Linked DNA regions of Homo sapiens: region 1 is linked to region 2. A link means that fine-mapping ties the variant in region 2 to the expression of a gene that starts in the linked region. Tissue or cell type: testis. Region 2 holds a variant in brackets; the other region holds the start of a gene. All regions are shown on one strand. Distances are between the middles of the regions.

Region 1 (16,217 bases), 42 kb after region 2:
TTATTAAGTAGTTAATTGTAGCAGAAAGTTACTCAGTTAGGTCCCAATAGGCACAGGCCAGAAAGTCCTCTGAAAGCTGCCCTCAGTACCTGCACTGTCACAAACCTACTAAGTGTATTCTATAGTTAGAAAAAATGTATTGATATAACTTTCTGCCATTGATATAACTGTTCTACCTAAAAAGAACAAGATATTAAAGATACCATGCTTTATAAAGAGATGATCCTATTCATTGTGAGAAACTGAACTTATCCAGCTATATGCTATTTTATTTAACTTTGGAACTGCATTCATCAGTACGCATTTATGAGATGGCTAAGGTCTGAGGGTATAGGATGGAACCACTTGGCCATCTCAAAATCATTAGCCTAGATTTGTTAAATTATGCTTTGCCCAAACTGAATTAACCAGGGATAAATGATTTTGAAAGAAATAAGGGTTGACATGTGGGTGACAAAAAAAAATTAATTAAAAAACAGAACGGGTGTAATGGCTCACACCTGTAATCCCAACACTTTGGGAGGCAGAGGTGGGCAGATCACTTGAAGTCAGAAGTTCGAGACCAGCCTGGCCAACATGGTGAAACCCCATCTCTACCAAAAATACAAAAATTAGCCAGGCATGGTGGCACACACCTGTAATCCCAGCTACTCAGGAGGCTGAGGCAGGAGAATCACTTGAACCTGGGAGGTGGTGGCTGCAGTGAGCTGAGATAGTGCCGCTATACTCCACAGCCTGGGCGACAGAGCACAACTCCGTCTCAAAAAAAAAAACAAAAAACAAAAAACAAAAAAAACATTAAGGGAATGACTGAGGTCTTGAGAAATAAATTTGAAACTGTGTTTTTAATGTTGAAATGTATCCAAAAAAAATCATATCCTAAAAACATTAAGAACTCAAAATGTGCTCTCTCCAAATTTACAATATAAAAGAGAACGAGGACTGTCAAATATAAAACATGTTTTAAAACTAAAAATGCATAAATTACATATATTTAGATGTTCATAGATAACAATGATGTTAGTGTATGAAGATATTTGGTTAATATATGATAAAAAATGGATTCACAGAATCAGTTGAAAAATATTTTAAGCAGAACTAAAGCTAGTCCTCTGCCAAACTTTCCCAACTACATTTTATACGTTGTAATCATAGAAGAAAATCTGCTGACATATTTTAAAATGTAAAAACAAGGTTATAAGGGATAAGTTTCAGGATAATATGCTTAAACTCTTTTCAAATTACAATTTATGTGCAAAATTTTTTTTGAATTCCAGAATTTGCTATTTCATCTACGTTGTTGCACAACAGATCTCCAGAACTTTTCATCTTGTAAAACTGAAACTGCTATTTAATCTTAAGTGAGCCCTAAAACATTTTTAAATAATATGAATCAGCAAACTAAAAAGCAAAATATATTCAGTGCAGAGTCCATGAGGATACAATTAGGACAGAGGCTAAGTAACAATTTCTCTTTTAAGCAATGGTTTTCTTCAGTGTATAAATATTGTAAACATTTTTTTAAATTAAGAGAATAATCTCCCTTAAGACCAGAGATAACATCTTCATGTATATATCCACAATATCTAGCTATATAAAGCACTCAATGATAATTGTTGATGGCACCCAAGGAAGCTGTTTAAATAATGAAGTTTCATAATCTAATTTCAATTTATTCTTATCTGTTCAATAAACTGGTTCCCTAAAAACCACTACCAGAAAGACTATTTTTGCCCTGTTTTTTAAAAACTTCCTTTTAAAAAATGTAATTGTATTGTAGGTTTCAAAATTCCCAGTTGACTGTGCTCACATAATAATCAACTCACATAAATGGTAGGTAAAGATAAGCTTCCTACTTACCATATAGTTACCATAAGCATGATCAAACATTTCCAGTACTTGATTCCTAATTTTAAAAGAGCAGAAATGGAAAAAAAAAAAAAAAAAGGTAAGTATATTCTATTTATTATCTTTCAAAAAGTTAATTCTTCCTCATAAAAAATATACCAATAAAAACAAAAGAAAAATTTAGGTAGAAAGGGACATAAACAGAATCAGAAACTACAACAGCTAGCAGACAAGCTTTCATGAACTCACCACACAGAGCTGAGCCAAACTTTAATGATTACTAGTAATTTATGTACAATTCATCTTATAATTTTTCCTAAGAAAACTGATGAATGATAGATGCCATCATCAGAGAAGGAAATCTGATGCAGAAAAACAATGACCTCTTAACACAATTATTTAACGTATCTGTCTTGAAGCGGGGGTTTTGCTGGACAGCCCTTTAAAAAAACCATTATTATTGCCATTTATTGCTTCCCCTATATGTTCTACTAAGAGAGAGGTACACAGGTGTGTAGTGACATGAAATAACAACGCTTTATGAAGCCTCTGCCTTTGCACTTACATTGAATAAACCACTAATGCCTAGTTTAAGTACATATTTATTAATGTTTGTCATATTTTCAAAAGATACTTTTTATGATGTGCTCTACTCTAAAAAAACTGTCAAAAATCAAATAAATAGTATTCACTTCCAAAATGAGAAAACTAATGCTCAAAAAGAGAGTTGTGTGTTTTGGCGAATTCTGTTTCACAAAATCTCCGTAACCACTGTTTAAAATGGAGATGTCTGATCACTACACCAGAATTTTACTAAATCAAAACCTGTAAGGTTGCGACTGAGGAAGCAGCCTTTCAATTAAGCACTCTCAAGTTCAGGGACTTGAGGACTACAGGAAAAAGTACAAGTTAATTGTATGACCAGACAAGGCCAAATAATTAGCAAAGGAAAACACAGCTTAACAATTTTTTATTAACTTTTTCTTTTTTTTTTGAGACAGGGTCTCACTCTGTCACACCTAGGCTAGAGTGCAGTGGCACGATCTCAGCTCACTGCAACCTTCACCTCCCAGGTTCAAGCGATTCTCCTGCCTCAGCCTCCCGAGTAGCTGGGATTACAGGCGTCTGCCACCATGCCTGGCTAATTTTTGCATTTTCAGTAGAGACAGGGTTTTACCACGTTGGCCAGGCTGGTCTCGAACTCCTGACCTCATGTGATCCACCCGCCTCAGCCTCCCAAAGTGCTGGGATTACAGGTGTGAGTTACCACGCCCGGCCTATTAACTTTTCTTTTACCAAAGTTCCAATCACTGATGGCAAGAATTGAAAAAAGTGTTAAAGAAATTGCTGACTATATTTTTATTTGCCTCCTGTTATACTGCAATTGTCATTTTTAAAACTATAATCACAGATTATGAAATACTGGTAATAATAGAGCTAGCAAACAGAAAAGACCTCAGTTCCAGATCCTGACTATGAACACCAACAAAATCAAGTACACTCAAACTTGTGAACGAATTAAGTCCTGACAACATATGAATAATAACCACTTAAAAACATTTCATTATTTAAAAAAAGACCTTACCACCACTTTGCTAAAGCACTAATTCTTTGTAAGTTTACATATATATATATGTTTATATATATATAATTTTTATATTTGTGGTTTACAGCTCTAGACTCTTATCCTGTCCTAAGCAGAAAAAAAAAAGTTTAAAATGTCCCTTTCAGGAACTCATATCAATGAATGGAAGATGGAAGTCCTCTTTTTTTTCCTTCCCTGAAATGGAATACGAGATTATTACCAAGAAGTAGAAATTCCTATAATTGGCAATGGTAGTGCCTAGACATGTATATTACAAATGACATAAGCTTTAACTTGCTAACTCAACTTTACAAGCATTCAATTTTCAAGACTGTAAGTAAATCATGATTGCATACAAGGAGAATACACTATTTTCCAATCCTTACATTTATGCAGCATATGATGAGCAAATTTTAGAACACATATTTCAAAGTGGAGCTATTTAATATCATTGCTCTTACACATAGAAGCCTAACAAAGTCACATTTAAATACAGAATGGTATAATAATTACTATACTGAACAGAAAAAAAAATTTCCATAATGTTTTATCTATTCAAAAACTGGATTAAAATGTATTGGAAATCAGACCCAGTTCAAAAATTACACCACTCTTCAGTAATTTCTGTAAGTCGGCTTTTTCTCTTTTTTTGAGACAGAGTTTTGCTCTTGTTGCCCGGGCTGGAGTGCAATGGCACGATCTCTGCTCGCTGCAACCTTCGCCTCCAGGTTCAAGCGATTCTTCCTGCCTCAGCCTCCCGAGTAGCTGGGATTAAGGGCATGCGCCACCACACCTGGCTAATTTTGTGTTTTTAGTAGAGAAGGGGTTTCTCCATGTTGGTCAGGCTGGTCTCGAACTCCCGACCTCAGGTGATTCGCCCGCCTCAGCCTCCCAAAGTGCTGGGATTACAGGCATGAGCCACCATGCCAGGCCAAGTCGGCTTTTTCTAAAGTTACGTCTCCTGCCCACGTGCTATAGAAACTGGATTGTTTTCTACTTCATTTTTTAATGAAAACATAACATTAACAAAATACCCTGTTGCAAAATTTTAAAAACAAAACCAAAAAGCTTATTCCATGAAGGATAAGACTACATATAACCAGCTAAGTAATTCCACAAAGTGTAAGTTATTGAGCAATTGCTTACTATTCATGACAATTCCAGTCTTTATCAACTATTTGGTTTGTTGGTGGGGAGGGAAAGGGGTGGGGCATTTTCTGCTTTTTATCATGAATCATTATTTGGGCTTTAAAAAATGCACAGGTAAACCTAATGAATCAAAGTTCAGTTTTCTGAAAATTCCCAGAGAAAGCAGTCATATAATTGTGTATTTGTCGTTTATAGCTCTAGATTCTTACCCTACCCTTACTCAAGGGTAGAGCAATCTAACAAGCCTAAATAATTGTAATTTCACTTTCATAAATGATCTCAAAATTTGAGCTGAAATTTCAAGCCAATTTGGTTGAACTTTTCCAGTTAAAAACTAATTTTGGTCAAAAATGATTTATCCAATGACTCTTTTACAAATAAGTTTTTAATAAAAAATGAAGAAAGGGTAGTGATAGTCAAATAAGATTCTTGTGGTTCTTAACAGACTTGATACTTCTCTTCCAAGTCTAATGAACGTGCAACATACTGGAGAGAGCCTGGCTCTGGGATCAGACAGGCTTGGGTTTGAATGCTGGCTCTACCAATTACTAGCTTTGTGGCTGAACAAGTCAACCTTGGGTCTCAACTTCCTCATTTGCAAATGTGGATCATATTCATTGGGAAATAGGAAGGAGTACAGAGATAACATATGTAAAGTATTCACAGAGTGAGATATTTGGTAAAACTTATCAATGATACATTAAATTCATATGAGAGAAAATGTAAGATATTTATTAGAGTTTACCGGTAATTTTATTTTGATGGTTGATACTTCAGCTTTTTTCCATCAAGTGACCTTTATTGCTATTTAGAAACGAATACAAGACTCTTTGCAATGATTTAAAGTACATAAAGTAAGACCTGATGGTTCCACCACCCCTCCAGCCTAACCCCATGAGATAATCTTCGTTCCACTTTTTTTCTGAGCTCAGATTTTTTTTTTCTTTTTTAAAAAAAACATGGGATGATACTATACATATTATTCTACAACTTGCATTTTTTTTTGTTTTGGAAATATATTCTGGATAGGCTTCCAGTGACGTACTTCCTTCTTCTTAATGTCTCAATATTATTCCATAATATGAACGTACCCTATTGAACCATTTCCTCCAAGGAAGAGCTGTTCTTTCAAAATGCACTTTTTTTTTTTTTTTTCGAGACAGAGTTTCGCTCTTGTTGCCCAGGCTGGATCTATCTCTGCATTAAGAGTGCTTTTATTTTCTTAGGGTAGATTCTCAGAAATAGAACTGATGAATCAAAGTGTGCACAATTTAAATTTTAGTAGATACTACCAATAAGTTACAGCAATTTACACTCTCACTAAGCCTTTTTTTTCTATTCCTTAACTAACCAGAACCGTATCCTTGTGTTTTGTATTATATTTACTAATCTGATGGGCAAAAACCAGCTAGCTCCTCGTTTTAATCTGCATCTCCTACGTTTATGGAGGTTGAGTAACTTTTCATGTTTATTTACCACTTCCATTTCCTCTTCTGGCTTAACCGTTCATGCCTTTCTCCCATTTCCTACTGGTTCTTCGCTTTTTTCTTATTCATGTGTAGGACCTCGTGTATGTATTACTCTGAATTAAATGGTGTAAATAGAATTGATAATTTTAACACACTTCCAAGACGGATAAAAACTACTGAATAGGTATACTTGAGACTTTTGAATAATTTCCCCCCAAACATTCTATTATGAAAATACAGTGCAAGAAAACACTGCAAGGAAATAGTAAAATGTGTAAAGTTCAAGTTCCAATGAACGCCCCCTTTTCCGTAACAGGTGTAAACATCATTTCCTTAACTACTGTGAGATCAGCAACATTTTCCCAGTTGGAAGCTCACTTGCGCGAGAAAGCTAACCATGCTTCGGTCGACAGGCAGCCAACCGCAGAACTCCAGCGCGCAGCGATGCGGGCTGTAGCCCCCTTCTTGGGCCACTGACATGGCAGCCGCGTTGACACACCGCGCCTGGCTTCAAGGAGCCTGCACATGTCACCGGCGGCCAGGGCGACACCCCGTCAGCTCCCCCGAGGTCAGGTCGCGGGCGGCGGTTCCCACCTCCCCGGACCCTGTCCACCCCTCTAGGGTTCTCGCGCGGGAAGAGCCGTTCCAATCGCGACAGGAGAGGCCACTACGCGACCGGGTCGCAATGACAGGCACCCCTCCTGTTGTCAGCCTCACCGAGAAACCCACCCCAGGCTGCCAGCACCCTTACCCAAGCTTCTGTTTCTCCTCCCTACTCATGGGCTCGGCCCCCGCCGTCCACACGGAGGTGGCCGACACCAGGCAGAACGCGGCCGTCGCCGCCACTAGTCTCCATCGCGCTCGCTGGGGAACCGGGGACCCACAGCCCCGGCCGCCGGCTTCGCTCATGGCCCCGCGGTTCCGCGCACGCGCAGCTGCTACGCCCGGCCGGTGAGACACATTGCTGGACGCTGGTGGCCAGGGGGCTGCTAGCCGTGCCGAGACGGGGCGGGATGCGGAGTAACACGGACGGCCGCCGGCGCCAAACTGTTTCCCGAAGCCACCAAGCCGGTCCCCAGCGCCAGCGCTGCCACCGCCCTCCGCCCTCAGTATCCCGGAGCGCCTCCCCCAGCTTTCCGGTGTCGTAGTCTAGGAAACCGCCTCCCCAACGTTACTTCCGGGTAGGGCCGAAGCCGTAGAGCCTCAGGACCAATGGAGACCTCATGGGAGAGGGGCTGTCTCCGGCGACTGGAGAGGGCATTGGCCAGGAGAAGTGAGACGTGGACAAAAGGCGGGACTGGGAAGGGATCTCTCGCTTCGACCCGCCTCCGACCCGCGGAGTTGCCCCCTGAGGACTACCAGTCCCAGTGTGCACTGCTTCTTCCCCGGCTCTCCCGCGAGCCGACTCGGAGCCGTGTCTCTCGCTTCTACCCGGGGTAGGCGCGCTGCACCCTGGGACTTGCGGTCCTCCGAGGTCGCCAGTGGTTGCTGGGATCCCACCTCCCCCTTTCCTCGGCGCCCTACAGTCAACCCTGTCTCGGTGGGCTGCGGAGTCCCGGGAAACCCGTCAGCTGTTTATCTCTCTTCCTCAGAAAGTTGTTTCCCAGAGAGCTGGCTGAATGAGGCGCACTGTCCCCATGTCAGTGCTGCTGCGTTAGGGAATAGTGTTGGAGTAGTCGTCTACCCTCAGGGAAATTCCAAAACACAGTAACAGCAAAATGAATTGAGCCTTTGAAGGCATTGCGCTAAGGTTTTTACTCGCAATCATCTCATGCACTCTTCTCAACTCTGATAGAGTAAGTACCACCATCCCCCTTTTGCAGACGAGAAAACAGAGGCTTAGAAAAGTTGGTTAACAAGAGCTCGTCACACTGCTGTATTAGAATCCATCCAGCCTCTGATTCGGAAGCCCTTGCATTTAACCACCGCGCAGTACTACAAGGATGAAGGAGCACGTGGGTCCTCGTACATGATTAATAATAGTTACCTCAAAAGCTCAATGTAAGGAGAGCTGTGTGGGCTGCAAAGAAGGTTTAATGAAGGAGATTGGAACTTGCAATGAATTTTGATGACCGAGTCCCAGGTTAACTATTGGTAAAATGACACATCGGTTCCTCTTGAAAAACCACATTGTTTTTCTAGTGTGGTCATTCAATAGGTGCGGAGTTTAGGAGCTTCGATGTGATCTCTGTGACCACAGTAAATTACTTACGTGTCCTTTAAGCAGTATTCGGCGGTCTTTCTGGAAACGTTTCTTCCTTGACTTTTATCACCTTACCTCTTACCTCTTAACCTCTTACCTCTTCTCTGGCTGACCCGTTTTCCTTCATTCTCTCGCTACTTTATATTAAAATACAGGTGTTCCCTTAAGGTTTTCTTTTTGTCCTTTTTCTCTCTGTACTCTAATTATTCCTTGGTGATTTCTTCTCATAAGGATTCAGCCAACATATCTCTGTGGTTGATTTCTAAATCAATATCTGTCCTGATCATTAGACCCACATTTCCACCTCCCTAATAGAAATGTCCTAATGTCTAGCCCAAGGGTAGCTCAAACGTAAGATGTTTTCTGATTCAAATTAATGCATCGGAATCATTGTCAACTCATCTTTAGCCTTCGGGGTCCACGTGCAATTAATTACCAAATTATATAGATTTTACCTCTTCTATCTTTCAGATTATTACCTTTCTTTCTATTCCCACTTTTGCTCCATTCAAGCTTCCATTACCTCTCTCCTAAACTATTGCAGTGTCTCAATAAATGTTAAATATACTTGCTTCCTTATTCCTGCAGTTTTCTTATCTATAAAGTGGGAATAATATGGTCCTTTTATCCAGTAGTCCCCAACTTTTTTGGCACCAGGGACCACTTTTGTGGAAGGCAATTTTTCCACAGGGTGGGGGAGACACCGTTCCATCTCAGATCTTCAGGTATTAGATTCTCATAAGGAGCGTGCAACCTAGATCCCTCGCATGTGCAGTGCACAATAGGGTTCATGCTCCTATGAGACTCTGACGCAGTTGATCTGACAGGAGGTGGAGCTCAGGTGGTAATGCTTGCTCGCCTGCTGCTCCTGAGAGGCAACTGACTGGTACCAGTCCACTGCCCCAGGCTTGGGGATCCTTGCTTTTATCTACTAACGTGGATGCTGTGAAAACACATGAAGTCATTTCTGTACAATATTTAATATCCTTTATTTTTTTGCATGGATCTCCAATCCTACATTGGTTCCATCCTAGTCCTCTTTGGCAGCATTAATGTTGAAGTTACCGATTATCTCCCTGCTGCCCTACTCTCCTCTATACATGGCTGTCAGAATTGGTATTCAAGAACATCTGCAAACCCTCTGAATACCTTCTTTCTTCCTTCTAGTCTGCCCTGCCCTCAAATCCTATGTGATAACTAAATAATTCCTATTCTGTATCCTTTCCATGCCTTTGCTCACACCATCTCCTATGCTACCCCATCATCTTTGTACAACACTCAACACCTGTTAAGGCTGGGCTCAGATTCCATTTCCACAAAACCCTTCCAGAACCTTCTAGTTAGCAGAAGTTATCCTCTCTCTGTGCCTCCATGGTATTCTGTGTCTTTGTTATTGTGTTTTTCATAGTCTGCATACCCACTACATTTTAACCACATGAAAAGTATTGACTTTAGCTTATTTGTAGGTTGTCTTAGTCCGTTCTCTGTTGCTATAATGGAATACCTGAAAGTGGGTAATTTATAAAGAAAAGTAATTTATTTCTTACGATTCTGGACTGGGAAATCCAAAAACCCGGCACCGGCATCTGGTTGGCTTCTGACGAGTGCCTCGTGCTGCATCATGACATGGTGGAAAAGCAGGCACGTGTGAAAGAGGTGAAACACGAGGGGCAGCCTCTCTGCATAACAACCCATTCTGGCGGTGACTAATCCAGTCCTGAGAGAATAAGAACCCACTCTAGCAAGAAGTAACCCAGACCGGAGAGAGCAGCATTAATCCCTCTTAATCACCTCTTAAAGGCCCCATCTCCCCAGATCACCATACCAGGGACCACATTTCCAACACAGATATTCTGAGGGACACACTCAAATTATAGCATAAGGATATTCTGAAACACCTAGCACTGTGCCTCTCCTGCTGTAGATGCTCAGTAAATGTTGAATATACTTGTTTTTGTATTCCTTCAGTTTCCTTATCTAAAAAGTGGGAATAATATAGTCCTTTTATCTACTTACATAGATGCTATGAAAACACATGAGGTCACTTCTGTACAATATTTAATATTATCCTTTCTTTGGACAGATCTGCAATCCAACATTGGTTTCATCCTGGATCCTCTTTGGCAGCCTTGGTAATGAAGTTAGCTAAATCAATACATGTGAGTTGGTCTTGGCTCTTGCATAGAGAACATTACAAACTAAAGGTCAACACCAATCATATGGTATTTGAAAACTAAGAACAAATAAAATAGAAAAACAGTGACATTCAGTTATATGGAAATATAGTCAAGTCAATAATTTGAAGTGGATTATTAACAATAACACAGTTTTCTTTACCTTCCTGATGTTCCAACCCTTTATAAGAAGTCAAAATTGACTATGAACTATCATTAAGAACATACTAAAGAAGAAGTACTGGCTTTTAATGTTTAACATTTTCTAGCATATTTGTTTGTTTTCAAGTTAACGCTGCATATTTAAAGATTATAATGGGAAGCCAGAACATAATTCTTTTTCGAACTGCTAAATAATAAGTATCTTTTTTTCCCTTGTTGAAACTCAATTTCTAGCCAATGATTGAGTCTATTTTTCACTGATCTCAGCAACCTTAAGTAGAAAATCTAGTGTGACCTAAAAGCTCTAAAACTTATCAAAGGTGGAGCCCATGGAAATAAAAGAAAAATATATTCGCAAAATGCATTTCAAAAAAGAACACTTTTTTTTTTTGCTGGGTGCAGTGGCTCACACCTGTAATCCCAGCACTTTGGGAGGCCGAGGTGGGCGGATCACCTGAAGTCAGGAGTTCGAAACTAGCCTGGCCAACATCATGAAACCCTGTCTGTACTAAAAATACAAAAATTAGCCGGGTGTGGTGGCAGGCTTCTGTAATCCCAGCTACTTGGGAGGCTGAGGCAGGAGAATCGCTTGAACCCAGGAGGCGGAGGTTGCAGTGAGCCAAGATCATGTCATTGCACTCTAGTCTGGGTGACAAGAGCAAAACCCTGTCTCAAAAAAAAAACAAAAACAAAAACAAAACAAAACAGAACAAAACGTATTTAACCCCGTAATGAAAATAATGGAAATTCTCAGCTAATTGGCACTTTATGAACACTAGGAAAAATTCACTTACGTTATTTTAAAACCTATACACTTAGTGATAAAAAGGATGTACGAGTTAATTGAGAGAGTCTAGTGTTGTACAGAGGGAAAAAGACTGGTGGAAAGCACATCAGAAGAATAAGGATAGAACTTTTAAAGATATAAAGATTTTTTATGTATAAAACCCATTAAAAATGGTAAGAAATAACAGCCATTTCTAAAATGCCCTTTAACCAGTTAACAATCTGTTTGCACAGCCTTGTAGCTTATGTAAATATGCATGCTCACTTTCCTGCTTGGATGTGTCAGAAGTTAGGGAGGGATAGGAGCCCTGGGTAGAACCATATGGATTCAAAAACACAGGGAGGGGCTCCATTTTAATATTATGGCTCAGAAATAGTCCTAGGAAGCTGGGACCAGCTGTGCAAAACTGGTCATAGAACAGCAGTTGCCCCTAAATGATTTGAATTCTTTAGTACTACAGTTCTAATTACTCCTGAAACTAGTATGGAATTTGGGAGTGGTGATTTTGTCATTCTTCAAATTGCTTTTCCTATTCTTTGATAGCATGCAGAATTGACAACAGTTTTCTTCTAGAGAACCCAATCTTGCAAACATTAAATAAAGACAGTAATTATTCTGCATTCACAATTAGTGACTTTGAGGCCTTAGAAAGAGCACCTCATGACAAAGATACTCGGTGAATGTCGTCAACTGACTTCCTGCGTGGCTGTCGGACTGATTTTTTCAAATTCTAAGAAAGAGAATGAGAGATTCAGATGATTCACCTCCCCAAAAGATGTCCCCAGGGCTTTTTCCACCTCTCCATCTTGATTTGAGATCTTCAAAATCACTTCACCTTCAGATTATTATCCCATTTCTCTCACTGGCACTAGCTCCAACTCTCTCAGGCAAGAAAGTTTGCTCATGTGTCATGATTATTTGGTTGGGTCACTTATTTAGTGGCCATTTTCCATTTACTTCAAGTATCAGAAGCAAAACCAAGTCACATGGCTCTTCGAGGGAGTACATTTTGTGTTTGTTCCCTCTCTTAAATCCCCATTTCACCATCAGCATAGTTCCCACTTATTGGTACAGTGTGGCCACAGGATTTAGGTGAGCACCATTCAACAACAGTTGCACAGGTACCATTCAGGCCAAGAACAATGGCTCTGAGACAGCTCTGCTGATTATTGGCTGGGCTTCCTTAAGCAAATGACTAAATCTCTGTGCTTTTGTTTCCTCATTTGTAAAATGAGAATAAGAATAATACCTACCTCACAGCATTTTTAGAAAGATTAAATGGTTTAATTGTTATGCCTTCCTTTTAGGGATGTTGTGAAGATAATGAGATGGTGTGTGTAAAATATTTAGTACAGTTTGAAGGAACTCAATAAATAGTAGGTATCCATATCATGATTATGAGGTAAAGAGAAAACATCGCCATTGTTGAGAGTAGGATTCAAGGGTGAGTGCAGCTGCTCCAACAGCACCCATGGCTCTGGTTTTATTTTCAGCCCTGAATCTTTTTTTCTTTTTTAATTATTATTTTTTTAAAAACAGAGAGAAAGAGAGACAGGGTCTCACCATGTTGCCCAGGTTGGTCTTGAGATCCTGGACTCAAGCGATCCTCCCACTTCCGCCTCCCAAAGTGCTAGGATTACAGGTATGAGCCACCATGCCTGGCCCCAGCCCTGAATCTTGTCTACTTCCTTTGCTTGCTTACTTCGTGCTGCCATTGCAGGCTCCCCATCCAAAAATGTAGCCCTCTTTAGGCCAGCAACTCCAGAGACTGTTGAATTCAGGCACAGTTTGTATGAGCTATAGCGCCTCATCCCTGTATTAGAGTAAATACGCACAAAAACACAAGGTACTTTTCTGTCCTCTTAAAATTAATAATGGCTTCATTTGTAAGACATTTGAAGTTATAAACGTTCTGGAATAAAGTTGTCAGAAAATCTTTGCAGCTTTTTTGTTTGTGTGACTTTCTTCAGTTTTACTTTGTTTTTGTAAAAGCTCATCTTACCTCCAACCTCCAAGGGATTTAGAAAGATAGTTTTACTGGTTATCTAATTATGAAATTAAGGATCAAAGTGAAAGGTGCCCAGTTGATCTTGTCAAAAAGCATTAGGTAGAGTAATCCCCAACATTAGGACACTTAAGAATTAAAAATAAGTTATTTCTGTAATGATCCTATCATTTCTCATTATCCAAATCCGACATTCTTCCTAGAATTGTTATCCAAACCCTGTGTTCTTCCTAGGAGCTCCCTTTGCATACATATACATATATGTTTTGTATATGAGTATATATAAATATATACACATATACAATATACATATATTGCACATGTATGTATTTGTATACACATACTTGTAGTACTGTCTTTTCACCCTTTCTTCCTGTTCTTGTAATCCTCAGAGTGGTCCAAATTTGTCAATCCCCAGCATTTCTTAACCTCAGAGGTAAATGCTGACAGTCCTTAAATATTTGAAATTAAATATTTCCTGGCCTCCAGCTTAAAGTTCTATGAAAACAGTGCTTATTTCTGTTTCTTCTCCAAATGTATTGATAAGTTTGGAGTTTTTTTGGTTGGGATTGTTTTTTGCTTGATTTTTTACAGGTAGGGCTTTTAGGTAATAAGTGGGGGTAGTAAAGGTTTGTGATGGATGAGAAGTAGAATAAAGAGTTCTTGGTTTATTTGCAGATCAATCTCTTTGTGATACTTTAAAATCAGTATACAACCTTCAAATACATGATTATACTTAAAACTTTGAGAGAGTGGTGTTAGATACACGGCTTTCTTGAAGATCACCATATTTTTCTTGGCACTAGATGATGAGGCAAGTATAGTTTCATTGTGCACAAAATGTACTATTTTTCATCCATTGCTAGAGATTAATAGACATTATTATTTACAGAAGTAGCTCTTAAGCAAATATAATCTTCAGAGCCTTCCTAGCCCTTTTTGGGAGACTTGCACCCAATTTTAGCGCAATCTCTGGGTTCCCAAGGCCCCCACTCTAATGTTTAATGTTTTCTCCTGGTTTTTCTCTGCATCACTTCACATCACTTCCTCTTCCTTCCTACTCCAATTCATTCTGCATGCATATGCGTGTGCGTGCACACACACACATAAACACACACACATTTGCTTTGTGCCTATTCCTGAACATTGAACTTTGAATCAGCTGACTTGGGTTCTACATTTAGATCTGCTAGTTACCATTTTATGGAAGTCTGTTTCTCTAAGATTCAGGTTTGGTTTTGTTTTTCTCAGTTCATATGGCCAAGAGAAGTGAGCAGAGGTTCCAGATGTAGAATCAGATTAGTGGTTTAAAAGAGTAAAATAACTATTACAGTTTAATCATGCAAAACTACTGGCTTGTTTTTAGTAGATAGACAGACGTAGTAGTCAAATTATAGGAGTTGGGGTGAAAATTATTTCCCAACAATTTCATAACAATTAAACCAAGTTAAAAATTAAATCAAGTATCAGGCTGATTTCTGTCACACATACAGACATTTATTAAACAAATATGTGTTAGCAAACAGAAACAAGGTGATACACCTGTTCTGTGAGTTTGATGAGGTCCCAGTTCTCTGTCTTTTTAGGTTCTGCAATCATGACCTTGCATGAAAGATTCACTGGAAGCAGATGAATAATATTCCAGAGCTAGAATTCCATCACCCTTACAATAAGCATCTGGCAACCGGAAGCCCTTCAACTCACACACCATCCCTAATCATCTGGCTTTTTGTAACTTGTTCATGCAAGAATGAGAGTGTCTCTAAAATATTTTAGCCAGTCCTTGTATCTTGGAAATCACTAATTATATGAGAGTCTGTTTGTCATATCTGTTGTGATGACTGACAAACCACTAATTTTGACAATGAAAATTCACTTTTGACATATGTTATAGAATGATTTTTGCTATTAAAGAGATAAGAGTGACAGATGTAGTACCCACCTCTATAGGGGTCTGCCTGATGAGACCACTACCTGCCATCTTAGAATATGAATTTATGATTAGTGCAACTGACTGCACCTTGATTGTAATTTAACCTAAGCCATACAAGATATACTGTCTATATGGAATAATTTTGGGGTATATTGGCAGACATCATACTGATAATAATATCTACAAAGAACATATGAGGCACTTTCTCCCCTCCTCCATGTGAGAATTATATCCTTGTTTTACAGATGTAGAAAATAAAGGTCAGGCCAGGCACAATGGCTTACTTCTATAATCTAGCACGTTGAGAGGTCGAGGCAGGAGGATTGCTTGAGCCCAGGAGTTCAAAGTTGCAGTAAACTATGATCATACCACTGCACTTCAGCCTGGGTGACAGAGCGAGACCCTATCTCAAAAAAAAAAAAAAAAGTAAGTAAATGAAGTTCACAGAGAGGTTATGTCACAAGTCAAAAGCAGGGAAATGGTAGTAAAATTTGGATATAAGTCCAGACTATTTCTACCATACTAAGATGACCATAAATTCTGGTTTGCTTGTGACCAGATTTAAATCATTTTCATGGTATCTGTATTAGTCCATTTTCACACTGCTGATAAAGACATACCCAACACTGGGAAGAAAAAGAGGTTTAATGGACTTACAGTTCCACATGGCTGGGGAGGCCTCACAGTAATGGCAGAAGGAAAGGAGGAGCAAGTCACATCTTACATGGATGGTGACAGGCAAAGAGAGAAAGAGAGCTTGTGCAGGAGAACTCCTCTCTTTAAAACTATCAGGTCTCGTGAGACTTATTCACTATTGCAAGAACAGTATGAGAAAGACTCACCCCCATGATTCAAGTACCTCCCACTGGGTCCCTCCCACGACATGGGAGTTGCGAGAGTTA
Region 2 (16,217 bases):
TGGTAAGAACTGTTCAAAATGATAGTGATGGTTAATATAATAAATTCTGCAATAAAACTAATCTAAGTGTGGGAAATACCCAAGGATAAAGAGCATGATTTAAGTCAGGGGTCGGCAAATCTCTTCTGTAACTGGCTAGATGATGAATAAATATTTCAGGCTTTGTAGTTCTCTCCTGTAAGTACTCAACTCCATCACTGCAGTTCAAAGCAGTCATAGACCATACACAAACAAATTGGCATGACTGTGTCCCAATAAAACTTTTATTTACAAAAATGGGCAATGAGCTGGATTTGGCCTATAGTCTTGTAGTTTGCCAACTGCTGATTTAAGTCATTAAACAGGACTTCTCCTAATGTTTATTAATAAAATTTATGCATCCATTAAATCAACATAATAAGTGTTAATATTCTGTTTTACCTGAACTATTTTTTTTTATTTACCTTAACTATTGGGCGGCAGGGGAGGGGGGAATCCAAAATGGATTTCCCTGTGAGAGAAGCTGTACAAAAGAACTCACAATCAGCATATTGTGAGCCCAGGTCTTACAGTTCTTTCTGAATGTAAACTCCTATTTACTTTAAAACAGAAAAATTTATATTTCCCCTAATAGTCATGGCCTGTTTATCATGATATAAGTGATTGTCTATGAAAGATAAAAAAGCAAAACCCACTAGTTGATACATATAGGTAAGATGATTTAAAGGTGGTAACTTGTCATTTCGGTAGAAAAAGATCCAAGGGGATAAAGATCTGCTAGCAATACTGTAAACCCTGTTATAGTAGCACTTATCCTATGTCTGCTATTATGCCAAGAAATTTTATATATCTTTAAACCTTACAATCACCTAAAATATATTTATTATCACTTCCACTGGAGCTCAAAAATATTCTACTATCAAATAAAAAAAAATTATACTATTTAATCTACAGATTAAAAAACTGAAGCTAGGCCAAGGTTACACTGCAATTTTGTGGTAGAGCCAGGAACTGTACTCTCATGTGTCTGCCTCCAAAGCCTGCATCTTTGTGGAGTAATGGAAATTTTCAATGGCTCCCCACTGGACGTGGCACAGTGTAATTCTTGCCCTTCGGGGGTTATGGATCTCATGGGCACCTTTTCTTATCCATGGTACTGAATTTTTTTACTACTCAGCCCTACCTCACCCTCACACCTAAACCCAAGTATTTTCACTGACATTAATATACAGAAATTCAAATCTAGACTTTTAAAAAAGATGTTAGATATCTAGAAATTAAAAGTCATTGGATTACCTATCCTTGTTGTCTAGGTGAGGTAAAAAAAACTATGACAAACTCTTTGATAAAATTTTAGAAAATAAAAGGGAAAAAATCCTAAAAATTATCTCCCCTTCAGTCAACACAATGACATGGATGATTACTTACCAATAACAATGCCACCAATGGCTCCAGCATTCTGGATGTTGCGTGCCTTTTCTGCAAACATGCACTGTCCTCTTTGTATCAGTGCGATTTTTCCCATCACTGCCTCTGGGTTAGTAAGCTCTGAACAACCATTGGATGGTTTACTGCTTGCAACAAATCCTCTTGTCTGTCAGAAATAAAAGCAACTTAAATACTTTAATCTTCTCAAATGGCAATCAAGTCATTAAACCTCAATATCTAGAGTTTTAAAAGAACTAGAACTCATTTCTTTTCTAATGATAACGTATCTAACATATAGTCACCATAAAATATTGTTTTAAACATTTTGCATATCACAGTACTCAACCAATATTTCTAGTGTGCTTTGCAGTTTATAGAACATTTTTATATAAACTACAAAATCTGTTATTTATAATGACCCTGAGCAAAACAATACAAATAACATTTCCCTTTCACATATGGGGAAATTGAGACTCAGGTTACGTAATTTGCTCACAATGTTAACACGATGTTACTAAGCAGTAAAGTTGGGACCTGCAGGCAGATTCACTACATTTACAATAGCTGGGAACTAATTTGAAATGATCATTGGTAACAAGAAAAGTTTTTGAAAGGGGAAAAAATGGACTTAGTCTATATGAATCTGCAAGCAGTTCTTTTTACCAAAAAAATTAAATCCACCAAGGAACTAATTTTTTTAAACACGTTACTATAAAGATGTTTTAATATCCTTCACTCTACTAAAATGTAAATTCCATAAGGGCATGGATCTTCATTGGTTTTGTAAACTGATACAGCAAGCAGTGCACAGAATATAGTAGGCACTCAATCAACAGTTGAATGAATCAATCAATCTATATAGCTTCTACATAGTTTAAAATATACATGAGAAAAAAGTCTAAATTAGCAGTAATAGAGTGAAAAGAGCATTGGCTTTAGATTGTCACGATACTTGGGCTCTGGTCCCAGCTCTGCAATCAATTAGTTAGATAACTTTGTGAATTGCTTAGTTATGTAAGTCTTTGTTTTCTACGTTATAACTATGTTACAACTATAGAGGATGGACTAGCTAAATGATCTTCAAAGTTTGCCCAGTGGAACCTCAGGGTCCCAGGCTTTCTCCAGTCACTTGAGCCAGAGCTTCTGTGCTTTTAGCTGTTTTCTACATTAAGCTCCTGGTTTAGACTTTTGTTCAAAGAAAGGTTCTAGTGGCTCTTAGAAAGTCTGAAAACCATTTTTAGATCAATTACAGGTATTAAATTAGAGAAGAGACCAAGAAATTGAATAGAACCTGAATAATATTTTAGTTAAAATTCTGTAAGCATATTATATACATAAATTATGACTCAAAGTTTTCAAGACATGCTTTTACTTTACTTAAATCCAGGAGATTGACTATTTCAGTTTTTTAAATAAATTAAAACTACTAAATTAGAGAAGAGACTAAGAAATAAGGCAATACTTAATATTTTAAATTCAGTTTCAACAACTATATTTTAAGTATACATACCTCTTTATGTTTAGACAGATCCAGCCCAAACTGAGCTGGTCCAGCAGTCAATACTACCCTGCCAAAAAATGGGTGGGAAACAATTTGTACAGCTCGTGGAGGCAGCTGCTGTTCTTTTTGTTGCTGACTTGACAATTCAATCATCTCCTGCATGAACCTCAACCCATCTTCAGCGTCGATTGAACTAGCAGCCTATGAAAAAAACAAATTCATTTTATCCTTCCTTTCTGGAAACTTCCACCAATTTTTTGATTTCCTAAAGACACTGTACTGTAGTATTCTACTCTACAACTTCTTCTTTCACTTTAGGTCACCACCAAGTATTTATGACCTTATTTGTACTCAAAAATAATACTTTCAGAAATAGTATTTCTGAAAATAACTTATCCGTATTTTTTATCAATGTCACTTTCGCTATTCTATAAACCACTTTTGATTCAGATTGAGAACTGGACTTCTAGCGAATGCTCAAATGCTCACTTTGCTTATTCTCCCCACTGGCTTTCCCTCTGAAGAAATAAACCTCATACCTGACCCACACTTTCCCTCCTTGAAATAGTGAACAACCAGATTCAATTTGATTCAAAACATATCTGTGAAGCACTTATTCCATCTCAGCACTTGCCTAGGCATTGGAGAGACAGTCCTTTAAGAAATTTGTGTCTGGAGGAGAAAGACATGTAAAGTTAGCTATGATAAAATTTCTCAAGTGGGAAAGTGGAAAAGGAGCACAGATGAGGGAACAATTGATTCTGCTTGTGTGTACCTGGGAAAGATTTAGAATGACACTTGAATTGAGTCTTAACAGAGGGAAAGTTGAAGAATGACTATAATAGAAAAAAATAAGATGATTCCTGATACTTTACAGGAAAAACCAACAAGACATGATAGAAGTTAGAGGATGGAAAAGGATAAGAGGAACTGGAAGAGAAGAAGAGTTCAAACCTATCCTGAAATTTCCAGCTTTGATGACTTAAAGAATGATGATAGGTTTTACTGACATGGAGAGCCAAAGAAGGAAACATAGGTTGAGGTGAGGGTAGAAAGAGAGTAAACAAGAAAGAGATAATTCAAGTTTGGACAGATTGAGATTGAGATGCAAGATGTATGAGAGGTAGATGAAAGTTGAATTTAATAGTAAATTTAGGAATCAGGATTCACATACATAGCTAAGAAGTCATATGTATAAAAATGATAGCTAAGCTTGTAGAAATAGGTGACACTGTTGAAGAAGAGTATATAGAGAAAAGAATATCATCCAGATTCTTGGAAACTGTTTACATTGAGTGGTTGTGCCAAGGAGAGCTACAAAGCAATAAACAGTGAAGTAGAAAAAGAACTTTGTTTCTGAAATATCCTGGGAAGCCAAAAAGGGAAAATGTTTTATGAAGGGTTCAGCCAATAGTTACAGAAAAGTTAAATCATATAAGGATCAAGAGGCCACTTGGCAGTAATTATGCCATTGGCAGCCTAAGTAAGTAAAAGCAATGTCACAAGAGATGTCACTCCCACTGAGGCCAAATAAAATACAAGGAAGAAGGAAGAATACTCTTAAAAGAAGGAAGGATGTGGCAAGAATATGGATGAGATGAAAACTTGAGGGTGTGATGAAGTTGTGGGAGGGTTGAATTTGAGATTAAAGGATACCTGAATATGGTTCTAGGTTAAAAATTATTCAGCAAACTATGTGGTTTTCTCAGAATCAATATACTAATAAGGTAAATAATTTAAAAACTTTGTGTTATAAAAACTTTCAAAGTAAAAATCAATAAAAATTTCTCAAAAAGACATGTTATTTTTCCTAGGCACAGACAAATAAATACCTATGATGAACAAAATACTTAAGATTCAGTAGCTCTTTGGAGACTAAAATGATGTAAAACATGGAGATATGAATATTAAAACTAATTACTAGTTTTTGAAGTTATGTTGTAAATAAAAGTAACAGGGGAAAGCCAATGGACTGAGAAACAGAAAACTTAGATTTGAGTCCTGCATTTGATTATATTAACTTCAGCAAATTACCCAACCTAGCTCTGATTTATTTAATTGATTTATACTATAAAGGAGTTGAATTAGGTGACTTTCCAAGATACTTCCAAGTCCTAAAATTCTCATTCTCTCACTTTAAACAGTATATTTAAAGTGTTTAGAAAGTTGAAATCCATTATCTTATTAAAGCTAATGCGACCAAAGAAAGCAGGGCAGAGACGGTATCTAATTAGTGTAGCAATGTCTTACTTGGATTGCATGTTGGACCAACTGGACTCTCCCATCTTTGAGGTGAATCAAACTCACCCCCATCTTCTTCAGGATTTCTAAATGCTCAGGGTTAGTGGCCATGAAATCTCTGGCTCTCAGAGGGGGTTTAGCTCCACTCCTGAAACTCTCCTCTCTGCTAAAAGTAATTACAGGCAAGGCTTAAAAAACTATAAATTAGAATTGGCAAAAAACACATGTCAAATAAAAATAATGTTACTTGCAAAATTGCTAGTTTTAGAACTAGTGAAACTGGAATAACTAGAAAGTATTTTCTTACATATAATTTAGGTTAACAAGTGGTATAGCTTTCAAATATAACATTTTCTAGTTATAAAAGTTTGTATATTATCTATATAAGGCAGTATTAGTCAAGAGAACTATAACTATTTAAAGGTACAGAACAAGTTTGCTTGGGGATTTGTTACTATTGATGTTATCCTTTAAAAACACAGATTTTTCTCCCAATATTTTAAAAGCAAATCAATACTTGCATCAGTGAATAATAACACTTATGTAAAAATAATTTTTAAAAAGTCCTTGCAATGGCCTAATATAACTACTCGTCAGAAAATGAACTCATTAAGCCAATTTTAACAAGCAAGAATAAGTACTCCCTCAAAAAATCAAATCCAAACAAACAAACAAAATACCTGTATTTTCACTACACAGAAACTATAGACAAAAGGAAATTTTTTTTTTTTGAGATGGAGTTTCGCTCTTGTCACCCAGACTGGAGTGCAATGGCGTGATCTTGGCTCACCGCAACCTCCACCTCCTGGGTTCAAGCGATTCTACTGCCTCAGCTTCCCGAGTAGCTGGGATTACAGGTGCCTGCCACCATGCCTGGCTAATTTTTTGTATTTTTAGTACAGACAGAGTTTCACTATATTGGCCAGGCTGGTCTCGAACTCCTGACCTCAGGTGATCCACCTGCCTTGGCCTCCCAGTGTCCTCAGATTACAGGCGTGAGCTATCATGCCTGGCCAGAAAATATTCGATGAAACTATTCCATGAAAAATGAGTTATAGAAGTTAAAAACTGTTACATGCTGCCCACTATTATTACCTTAGTTCATAAAATAAAAGATATATTGAAAGTTTCCAAAATAATAAAAAAGATATTACTGCAAAATAAGCTTTACTATCTAACTTTACTACTAATTTTTATTTTAACCAGTGATAGCTACATACCTCAACATTTTCGGCCTATGTGAATGTCTTCTTGGCTGTTGATACATGCTCCCTAAGTTCTCTGTCATTTACTAAGAAACAACTTTGATATTAGAAAATATAAAATAATACATCTTACACTCTGATGATGCCTCTAGGACAGCTCTTATCCACCACATTTTTCAAGGGCTCACGAATACTTTGAGCATACAATGGGTCATTAGGAAAGAGGATCTGAGTATTTGGACAAGTCCAATCGAAGTTACTGTCATCCAGTTCTGTATATTCCGAGGTCTACAAGAGAAAAACATTTTATGTAAACAGAAATAATTATTTTACTTAACATAATTTTTTTTTTTTTGA[A/G]ATGGAGTCTCACTCTGTTGCCCAGGCTGCAGTGCAGTGGCGTAATCTCTGCTCACTGTAAGCTCCATCTCCTGGGTTCATGCCATTCTCCTGCCTCAGCCTTCCGAGTAGCTGGGACTACAGGCGCCCACTACCACGCCCAGCTAATTTTTTGTATATTTAGTAGAGACGGGGTTTCACCATGTTAGCCAGGATGGTCTCAATCTCCTGACCTTGTGATCCACCTACCTGGGCCTCCCAGAGTGCTGGGACTACAGGCATGAGCCACCGCACCTGGCCTACTCAACATAATTTTTAAAAGGAAACAGTTAATGAAATATATAAGTGTATACAGGATGCAATAAAAGAAAAAAAATAGGAAAATGTATATATTTATTCTTACCATACATATATTTATTGAATTCTACTCATGGATTACTTTTCACTTGGAAAAATAAAACATGTAGAAATAAAAAAGAGAATAAGACATTTCATTTAAAAACTCACTGTGTTCTTTTTAGAGATGCTTTGATTTGTAGTAGAGAGCCAAAGAGGTAACAGATGAGCTTCTGTTGTAAAGATGTAATCTTCTATGTCAAAAATAATGTCTTCTTTATCAGCAAATAACAGGTAAAGATATTTAAACATTTCAGCCAAGAAGAAAGAATCCATTCTAAAATAAAAAGTCACAAATAAATATAAGTAGATAAAAATAATTTAAATGCCAACTATATGAAAGCCATAGAGTCAAGGTTAATAATCCTGTCTATACCAACTTAGATGTTCAAAGAACTATAGAATGTATCAATCTACCAGGGGCAGAATAACCTTGACTCCAAGTATATTCTATGTTAATGAAAAAGACCAGAGGAGTTGTCTACCACACTGATACACTGAATCTTGTGAATAATGCAGACAAGATTTTTCTATAGGCCTTTCAATGAGGGAAAGTTCTCCATTTCTTCTATAGAGAATCAACAGCAGGGAGGTAACTGATAAATTTTACTAGTGAGAATCATATAAGAATCTTCCATTAAATTAGAGAGCTGGAAAAAGTCATACAAATTTGACGGAATTTATTATGTAGCTATTTAAGTGATTTAAAAAGAAGGCTTTAAATGTAAAGAAATTACTTGCATGTAATTTCCTGGCCAACATGGTGAAACCCCGTCTCTACTAAAAATACAAAAATTAGCCGGGTGTCGTGCCAGGCACCTGTAATACCAGCTACTCAGGAGGCTGCAGCAGGAGAATCACTTGAACCCAGGAGATGGAGATTGCAGTGAGCCGAGTGCAGTGTCACTGCACTCCAGCCTGGGTGACAGAGCAAGACTCCGACTCAAAAAAAGAAAAAAATAGTTACATGAAAAAAGTACAATGCAAAGTCACACGGGCTATGATTATAACATGCTAAATATTTATTTACCTGTTAAGAAGGGAATGTGGAGAAATAAAGACAGTAAAACTATATGTGTTTTTACAAATGATTTAATGTTATAATGTTTTAACAATTTAAGAAAAGTTTAAATTAAAAGTGTCAGGAAAAAAGCATAGCTGGTAGATGGAGTCATAGTAACATCAAATTTAATTCACTACTCCCCAAAGCATCATAGGTTTTGGCAGTAATAAACAACTTCTAGTTTACTGGACAAGTTGCACAATTTCATACCTCTGGCCAAGCACAATTCCTGGCACACAGTAGGCACTCAATAAATGTTTACTAAATTAAATGCAAGTTTAAACAGCGTGATTAAAGAATGAGCTGGAGAGGGAGTAGAACAAAGAAGTAAAGAACATGGGCTTTGGAAATAGAAAGATCTTCCACTAATTAGTTCTGTCACCATGGGGATATTATATAAGGACTATGAGCTTCAGTTTATTCTTCTGTAAAAGGAATATAACAATACACTCATGACATTGGTGTGAAGACTGAGATATTAAATGTCAATTATTTAGCATAGCACTTGGCATACATATGAGATTGAAACTACAGCTATCATTTTTCCTACATACACATGATTTTTTATTTTGGAACAAAAACTCACCTGAAATGTTTCAAAACATGTTTAGCCATTTTGGATATTAATCTTTTTAGACAATATAAAAACACTTTCCTGTTTATCTGCAATACACTTATCATAATTCAACCTTTTCTGATGGACTGACAGTTATTACATGAGCAAATGCTATCTTGAGAACTGCAGACAGATGAGCAGGATACTGATAATTGGCAAATACTAGAATAGACAATTTGTAAACATTTAGAAAAGAACAAGGCATGGTAAGATAACTACAATATGAATTGGGCAAAGCTAGCAAGTTGAACATCAGATCATATGATCTATTTTATATTTTAAAATCATAAAAATACATAAATAAAAATACACAGGCATTAAAAATGTCTGGAAGCCTTTATAAAATTGCTAACAGTGGTAATCTTACGCAGTTAGGGGACAGTGTCTTAGCAAATATTTTCCTATTATTTTTGCCATTTACATTCTTTTCAGTAATTATGATTAGGAAAATACAGATATTTCCATTGTGAAAAGTGTGTGTGTATGTCTGTGTCTGTGTAGATGATGGTAACCTGGAGGACAGTGATAGTGCTTAGATCTATAGGGTAATAAACCACCACATGCAAAGAGCCTGTAACTGAAAGCTCTTGAGTGCAGTGCCACAAGGCACTGGTTGGGGTCCAACCAAAACTTCTTCCTAACAGTTTGGATGAAAAAAATGTAAGGTATGCTCATCTAAACTATAGATCATTGAAAACTGGTAGTTTAGCTAATGAGATTCAACCTCTAGACCAAAATCTAGAAACAAAACAAAAAAAGAAATTTTGCTGAGTTAAATATAAAAGTTCTAAGTTTACACTAAAAAAAAGAAAACTTGGCTGCTCAAAGGCAGGGTGGAGAACACTCATTTGTCAGCAGACCATACAGTTAAGTATGTGAAACTAGTTGATCACAAGCTCACTGTGAGCTGAACATAATAAAGCTCCTAAAAAATCTAAAGCACATCTAATAACACAATATGATGAAGAATGGTAGTTCTTAACCTTTCATTTGGCTAAAGACATCTGAGAGGCACAACAATCCCCTCAGGAACAGTGAGTCAATGAAGCAGTGGTCCTCAACTGGATAGAGGGTGGAAACTCATCAGCCTCATAGAACATTAGTGACCCTTTGCCTGAATACAGACAGTTATGGTGCTGTGTGCCAGACACATCTTGAGTATGGTTAATTCTGGATGTGATATTTTAAGAGTTATTATATATACTGGAATGCAATCAGAATGGGGCAATGTCAGTGGTAAGAGGTCCAGAAACAATGTCATAAAAGGAGTATTTGGTGGGGAAAAAAAGAAGGATGTTACACTTTGAAAAATAGAATTCTGAACAGTAAATCATGTCTTCCTCTGCAATTCTTCAACTTGTTACCTCTTTTGTATTTTAGAACATATCACATGGTTGTGATTATTTCTTTACACACCTATCTTATTCACTAACTACAAGTCATGGGAGTGCAGGGACTGGTTCTATTTTATCTTTCTACCCCACACTTAAGTGCAGTGGCTGGCATACAGTAGGTGTTTAATTATTGTTCTTTAATGAATTGCCAGTATAACATCATTGTCAAGAGCCAATCTGCCTAGATTAGAATTCTGACTTAATCTTACTAACTGTGTGACCTTAGGCAAGTTCCCTAACTTCTCTTTCCCTTGGTTTCTTCACCTTTAAAATGAAGACTGTAATAGTACACTTCAGAAAGCTGTTGTAAGGATCAAATTAGTTAAACACATAAAATGCTTAGAAGACTGTCTGGAGTATAGGAAACAGTCAATAAATGTTACAGGCAAATAAATACACAAGGTATCTGCTTTTATTTCTTGCTATTACTTGTATGCCTGCTTCCAGAACCTAACCATTTCTCATTAGCTGTGGTTAGGGATGGAGATTCGAAGCCTAATTAACCATTATCCGAACACTAAGTGAAGAACTAAGGGACAACTCTATGGGTAGATGATGAGTGCTGTGTTTCTCATGTCTTCAGTCTCACTGCCTGGAACTTCTTTTACATCTTTCTTCTTCTAATTCTTGGTTATCCTTCAGGACATAGGAGCCTTCAGGAACCCTTCGCTGACTATCACATCCCAACTTGTGCTTCATGCCCCTTTAATATGTTTCAAACACATATACAATGTTTTAAAAGTCTGCTTATTGGCCTGCCTTCAGTGATTCAAAGACAGAAAGGACTTATCTTCATATCTTTAATCCTCAAAAACTAGTAAGAGCCCTGGCACATAAGGGGCCTCAGTAAATATTTCTGGAATGAACATTTGCTAACCAAATGAACAAATAAGCTTCAGCATTCATTTAGAGATGTGATAACCAGATAAGTGATCTTAGAATAAGGAGAATGCTTGTGAATTTCATGTGGAGCACTTTTTATAGCTTGAATACTTCATACCATCTACATCTATCCAGTGTCTAATGAAACAGAAACTACCACTGGTCTTTCCCACTCCTGCAAGTCAGCAACGGTGTAAGTACACACAGCTTTTGAGGAATTCTTGGCCGAACACAAATCACATTCCAGATCATTCCTCATCTTGGTAATTTCTAATGTCTTATGTAATATAAAAGGAAACTATTATCAAAGAAGAAAAAAAGCCACATTTTAGATAGTCCTAACACCAAGGTTCTGATATTTAACAATCATCGATTCATTTATTTAAAAATCATTTGAGCACCTACTATATGCCAGGCACTATGATAAAAATACAAACTTTTCAAACAAATTAAAATTAGTGTATTCAACAGAGTTTAAAAAAGTAAACACAAGGAACAAAGGTTTCTATCCTTTGTAAAAGAATTAAACTTATTTGAATCCTAAATGGTAGCTGCATTTTGTGTTGTTTCAGAGAGACCCTGAGGAAAGAGGATGTTAGCAATTGTTTTACCTGTCCTCATGACTTCCAGTACGAACATCCTTCATGGCAGCAAATCCGCAAGGCACTCTAGCATATTTATTTAAATTTTCAATAAGTGTCTTCCCTACTTCAAGGTAGTAAGGATCTCCTGTAGCCTATTAAAAAGGAGAATATATGTATAATATATATAGCTTATATATTACCACATATCCATTCATTTACCAAATATTTATTGAGTACCTACTAGGTGCCAGGCACTGTATCAGGCACTGAAGGACATTATATAGAACTGAGTTCTGAAAAAAAGCTATGAATCTGCTTTACAGAATTTCTTAAATACACAATTATAAAATTTAACTATATAACCTTAGTTTTTAAATTTCTAATGCTCAGAAAGGCTGCCTGAAGAAAGGCAAGAGACATGCTTTAGAAAGCAGCTCTAGAACATAAAATTTCTCTTTAAAGAAATGTTTACATAATATTTTTTAAAGAAAAAAACCTTGCATGTCAATTCTTGCATCATTCAATAATTCTATGGACTAGATGAATAAGAATCATGATATATCCAATCATTATAATATTAAAAGGGGACTCTGAAAACCCAATTACTATTATGAAAGAATGAGAGATCCAACAGAGAATGGAGGCTAAACTTTAAGTAAAATGGGGTATATTTTCTTACTTTATATAAGAAGTAGGTACTTTCTGCAAATTCTGGCCTTAAAGGATGTTGAGCCCAGTGTACTCTGAAATCTGTGGTAAATGCCTGAACAAAACAACATACAAAAGGCATAAAAAATGTGATTAAATACACAAGTAGTTCCAGAATATATAGAATATATATAAATAGGTAAAAGCAATTAAAATAGCAATCAGGACATTTTCATCAATAAAACATCAATTTTCATTGCTTAAAATAACAATTCATTTTGCAAAGGCTGCTATTTTTACCAATTAAATTGATTATTTTTTCAGTGATCATTCTGGCTATTAGAAAACTCAGAAAAACTCCATAATGAAACTCAGCAATGCCACTACATGGGTCCTGGTGGTAAACATAATTGTGTTTTCTTTTTATCCTTCCCTCTACTTTTTCCTCTGGATTATTACTCTCCTAGTTCTCATATTTATTTTTAAATTTTTTAAATCGACAAATAAAAGTGACATATATTTATGGTATATGACATGATGTTTTGATATATTTATACACTATGAAATGGCTAAATCAAGCTAATTAACATATGCATTATCTCACATAGTTCTCTTTTTTTGTGGTGAGAATACTTAAAATCTCTCTTAGCAATGTGTAAGCATACATATTTCATATTTTAGCTTATATTTTCTAAAAGCCTCAAATCCTTTGTGGAATAAGACAGAGCATTATTTAGAAATAAATAAAATTAGTCTATTTGAAATTTATTCAATAACATAATCAATTGGTTTTTAAAAGAAAATAAAAATAAAAGCAAACAAAAACTTTTATGGGAGCTAAATAAAAATTTCATTTGTGATAGATGTATTAATTGAAACCTCAGTTTATTCTGTATGGATATGAATTTTCTACAATGCACAGTCCTACTCACCCGAAGGCTAATAAAACTATACTTTCCAAAACAAACACTTTAGGAACCCTTCTAAGTTGGTAGAATGCTTAGATATCTCACAGAGGGTAGTCAATAAGCGGGGATAGAACAAGGCCATACACACATTTGGAAATTTTTAACGGTACATTTCTGGGAAGCCAAAAAGTATGCTATTAAAATCTTGTCATATTAAGCTAGCAAGAATATTTATTACTAATATGATGTATAAAAATCAGGAAGAATAATTCTCAATCAGCATGAGGAAGAGATGGCATTCTATACATTTCCAGAGGGCATGTGTGAACAACAAAAGTATATCTAATATATACTGTTTTCATAAGACAAGCTTTAGAAAATAAAAAGTGACAAAATCTCCCTAGCTGGTAGGTACATACAAGAGTTAGAATGAGAGAATATTACAATGGCATAAGTTAGGAAGAGTTGAGAAGAACTAAGCTGGGAATTTTTTTACATAAAATTTTAAAAATGTCAGCATTACCCTAAATCAGACTTCTCTTAACACACAAAGAAAAGCAAAAACATATATAATACTGTACAAACCAAAAATAAACTATTTAATAGGAAAAAAATAAAAAGAACCAACAAGCCTTGAAGATGACATTTTCTACCTTTATATTAGCAACTTATAGTGTATATGTGTACGTGTGTGTGTGTGTGTGTTTGTGTGTGTGTAAGATTATTCCAAAAATTATTTGCTTACCTCTGGTAGAAAATTGTGTTTTTTAATCACCTGATATAACATTTCATGAGTTTCAATAGCAGGTCTAATATCCCCCTTTAACACCTAGAAATCAACAACAATAAAATTACCTAATAAAATATGAGCTGATTTTATCTCTAATCATTACATAAACAGAAAAATGTATACAAATACAATTCTGAACTGCAACTATGTTTTGTAGTTCAGTTTTAAAGATCAAAAATGCGCCTAATTAACATCATCATCTTACATTCATATTAAGAAGACAGAATTCTTTATACCTGCAAGCCTGGGAAGAAGGCAAGCAAAGCATCCATCCAAGTCCGAGCATTCAGCATTGGTTTGTGGATATGCACATCAAGTAGAAGAGGTGGCTGGCTAATATACCTCATTATGGCATCATAGTGCTAAAAGATCACAACATGTGTTCATGAAAGTTAGATGAAAAAAGAGGTACTACTCTAAACACATTAAATAGCACTGTGAATAAATTAAACTAGAATTTATATATAAATTCACTAAATAACTACCAATTTATATAAATATTTAAGTTATTTTAGATGGAGATCTTTCTAAAATATATATGTACTCCTTTATGTCCTCTAACTCACATGCAGACTATTAAAGACTATCTGTAATATAGGACCTTCTGAGAAAAATGGAACTGAACATCTCTATGCCCTGTGGCGTTAGCCCGTGGTTGGTATGACTTTGCGGCCCACTGATGCTCATAGGTCCCCTTGTAATATAGCTATCAGCTTCTGTATTACAGAATTTGCTTTTTCCTGTATCTTGGAAGTTTGATCCCTTCTCGGCTAACAATATTTTGGTGCTCACTACTATCTAAACTAATGCAGCTAATCACTGCTGCCACTCTTATGGTTTGCTATCTCAGCTTATTATGGTCTTAGAAAACTCTTTTTCCCTTCTTTTGTCTTCTTCTCCTAGATATTTCTCAGCTTTGACAAAAGGTTGAGTTGTGATAACAAGCCAACAAAAATAGTTATTTGTCCCCATTTACCTCAAGAAATTCTTGTTATAATCTAATAAACAATCTATGTGATAATTTTAGAAAGTATTCAATTAATGACTTATTAACTTTTACTAATTTTTTTTTTGCAAATTTACCTATTATTTAATCACTATTATTGAATATTGGCCATAGGTTAAAGGCACTGCTCTAATCACTTTGAATGCATAAACTCAATCCTCCCAATAACCCTATAAATAGTACTAGTACTCCCATTCTGTAGATGAGAAACAGAGGCAAATAATATTAGTTACTTGCCCAAAGTCACAAAACCCGTAGGTGGTACAATCAGAATTTAAACCAGTACATCTCCCATACTTTTTTTTTTTTTTTTTTGAGACGGAGTTTCGCTCTGTCGCCCAGGCTGGAGTGCAGTGGCGCGATCTCGACTCACTGCAAGCTCCGCCTCCCGGGTTCACGCCATTCTCCTCCATACTTTTAATCACCATGTCATACTGTCTCATACATACAACATGGATGAACTGATAGGTGAGCAAGGAAATGGTAGATTAGTTTAAAAAGAATATAGTGATATAACTGATGAGTTTGCTATATTCATTTCAGTTTGCTTCAGTTAAAAAGGTGATTCAATTGGGTTCAATAATCCTCCCACTTTTCCCAAAAAAACATGCTTGTGGTTCTGAACCAGTCTTAAGACTTGCTTTTGAAATGAATACTCACTAGTTTCTCCAGGTCTTCAAAGCCCTGTATCCTTGGTGTAATCAAAGACTAAGCCAAACTTCCAAGATTTCAAAAAGAATTGAAATACAAAGGAAAAAGCTAACTAGTAACATATTTCAATAATTCTTATCCTTGTACAAACAAGATTAGGTAAAACTCAAATCTATTACATCTCTTATTGGCAGATCTGCAAAGTTTCTGATAAAAGGTGAAAATAAAACTACTTTATCAACTGATTTTTTGGAATGTATATCACTTTTTACGCTGTCCCTGTTCAACATCATCAGGAAATACTGACACAAAACCACTACACATTTTAAAAATTATTTTTACAATGTCATTCAGGTAATGGAGTTTCTATAAAAATCTGGACTCAAATGAAGTTGATTATAAAATATAAAATTGTATCAACTTACTGTGTTAAATCTTTCCAGAAAACTGTCATCTCCAAGCAAGACATAGGCTTTCAACAGATATTCATAATATGAATCAATCCCTGCTCCAACTCCACTATCTATGGAAACACAAATGTGATTTTTCATTAAATTTTTTTAAAACCGTTAAATTTTTTTAAAAAAAT

Direction of the effects. Positions count from the first base shown, and alleles are read on the strand shown. Sizes are in standard deviations (SD) of each study's normalised expression.
For the expression in testis of the gene that starts at base 7,172 in region 1, A is the high allele of the variant in region 2 and G is the other (small effect, 0.25 SD a copy in GTEx).

What was found.
Region 1: it holds the start of EDEM3, and the variant in region 2 is fine-mapped to the expression of EDEM3 in testis (GTEx, PIP 0.99).

Annotation. Positions count from the first base shown.
Region 1 is chr1:184,747,687-184,763,903 of GRCh38, forward strand. EDEM3 (ER degradation enhancing alpha-mannosidase like protein 3) reads right to left here and starts at 7,172. Exons shown (of 20, transcript NM_025191.4): 1 at 6,803-7,172; 2 at 1,861-1,906. The coding sequence starts at 6,960. LOC105371649 (a long non-coding RNA gene) reads left to right here and starts at 7,488. Exons shown (of 3, transcript XR_922357.4): 1 at 7,488-7,847; 2 at 10,338-10,413. RefSeq lists enhancers at 6,756-6,855, 7,326-7,425.
Region 2 is chr1:184,705,236-184,721,452 of GRCh38, forward strand. EDEM3 (ER degradation enhancing alpha-mannosidase like protein 3) reads right to left here. Exons shown (of 20, transcript NM_025191.4): 9 at 16,054-16,151; 10 at 14,208-14,333; 11 at 13,927-14,010; 12 at 12,305-12,388; 13 at 11,653-11,777; 14 at 7,198-7,363; 15 at 6,488-6,642; 16 at 5,159-5,312; 17 at 2,918-3,109; 18 at 1,408-1,573. Among named protein-coding and RNA genes, the nearest start is that of EDEM3, 42 kb to the right of the region's middle. The variant A/G (reference allele first, on the strand shown) is at 6,712.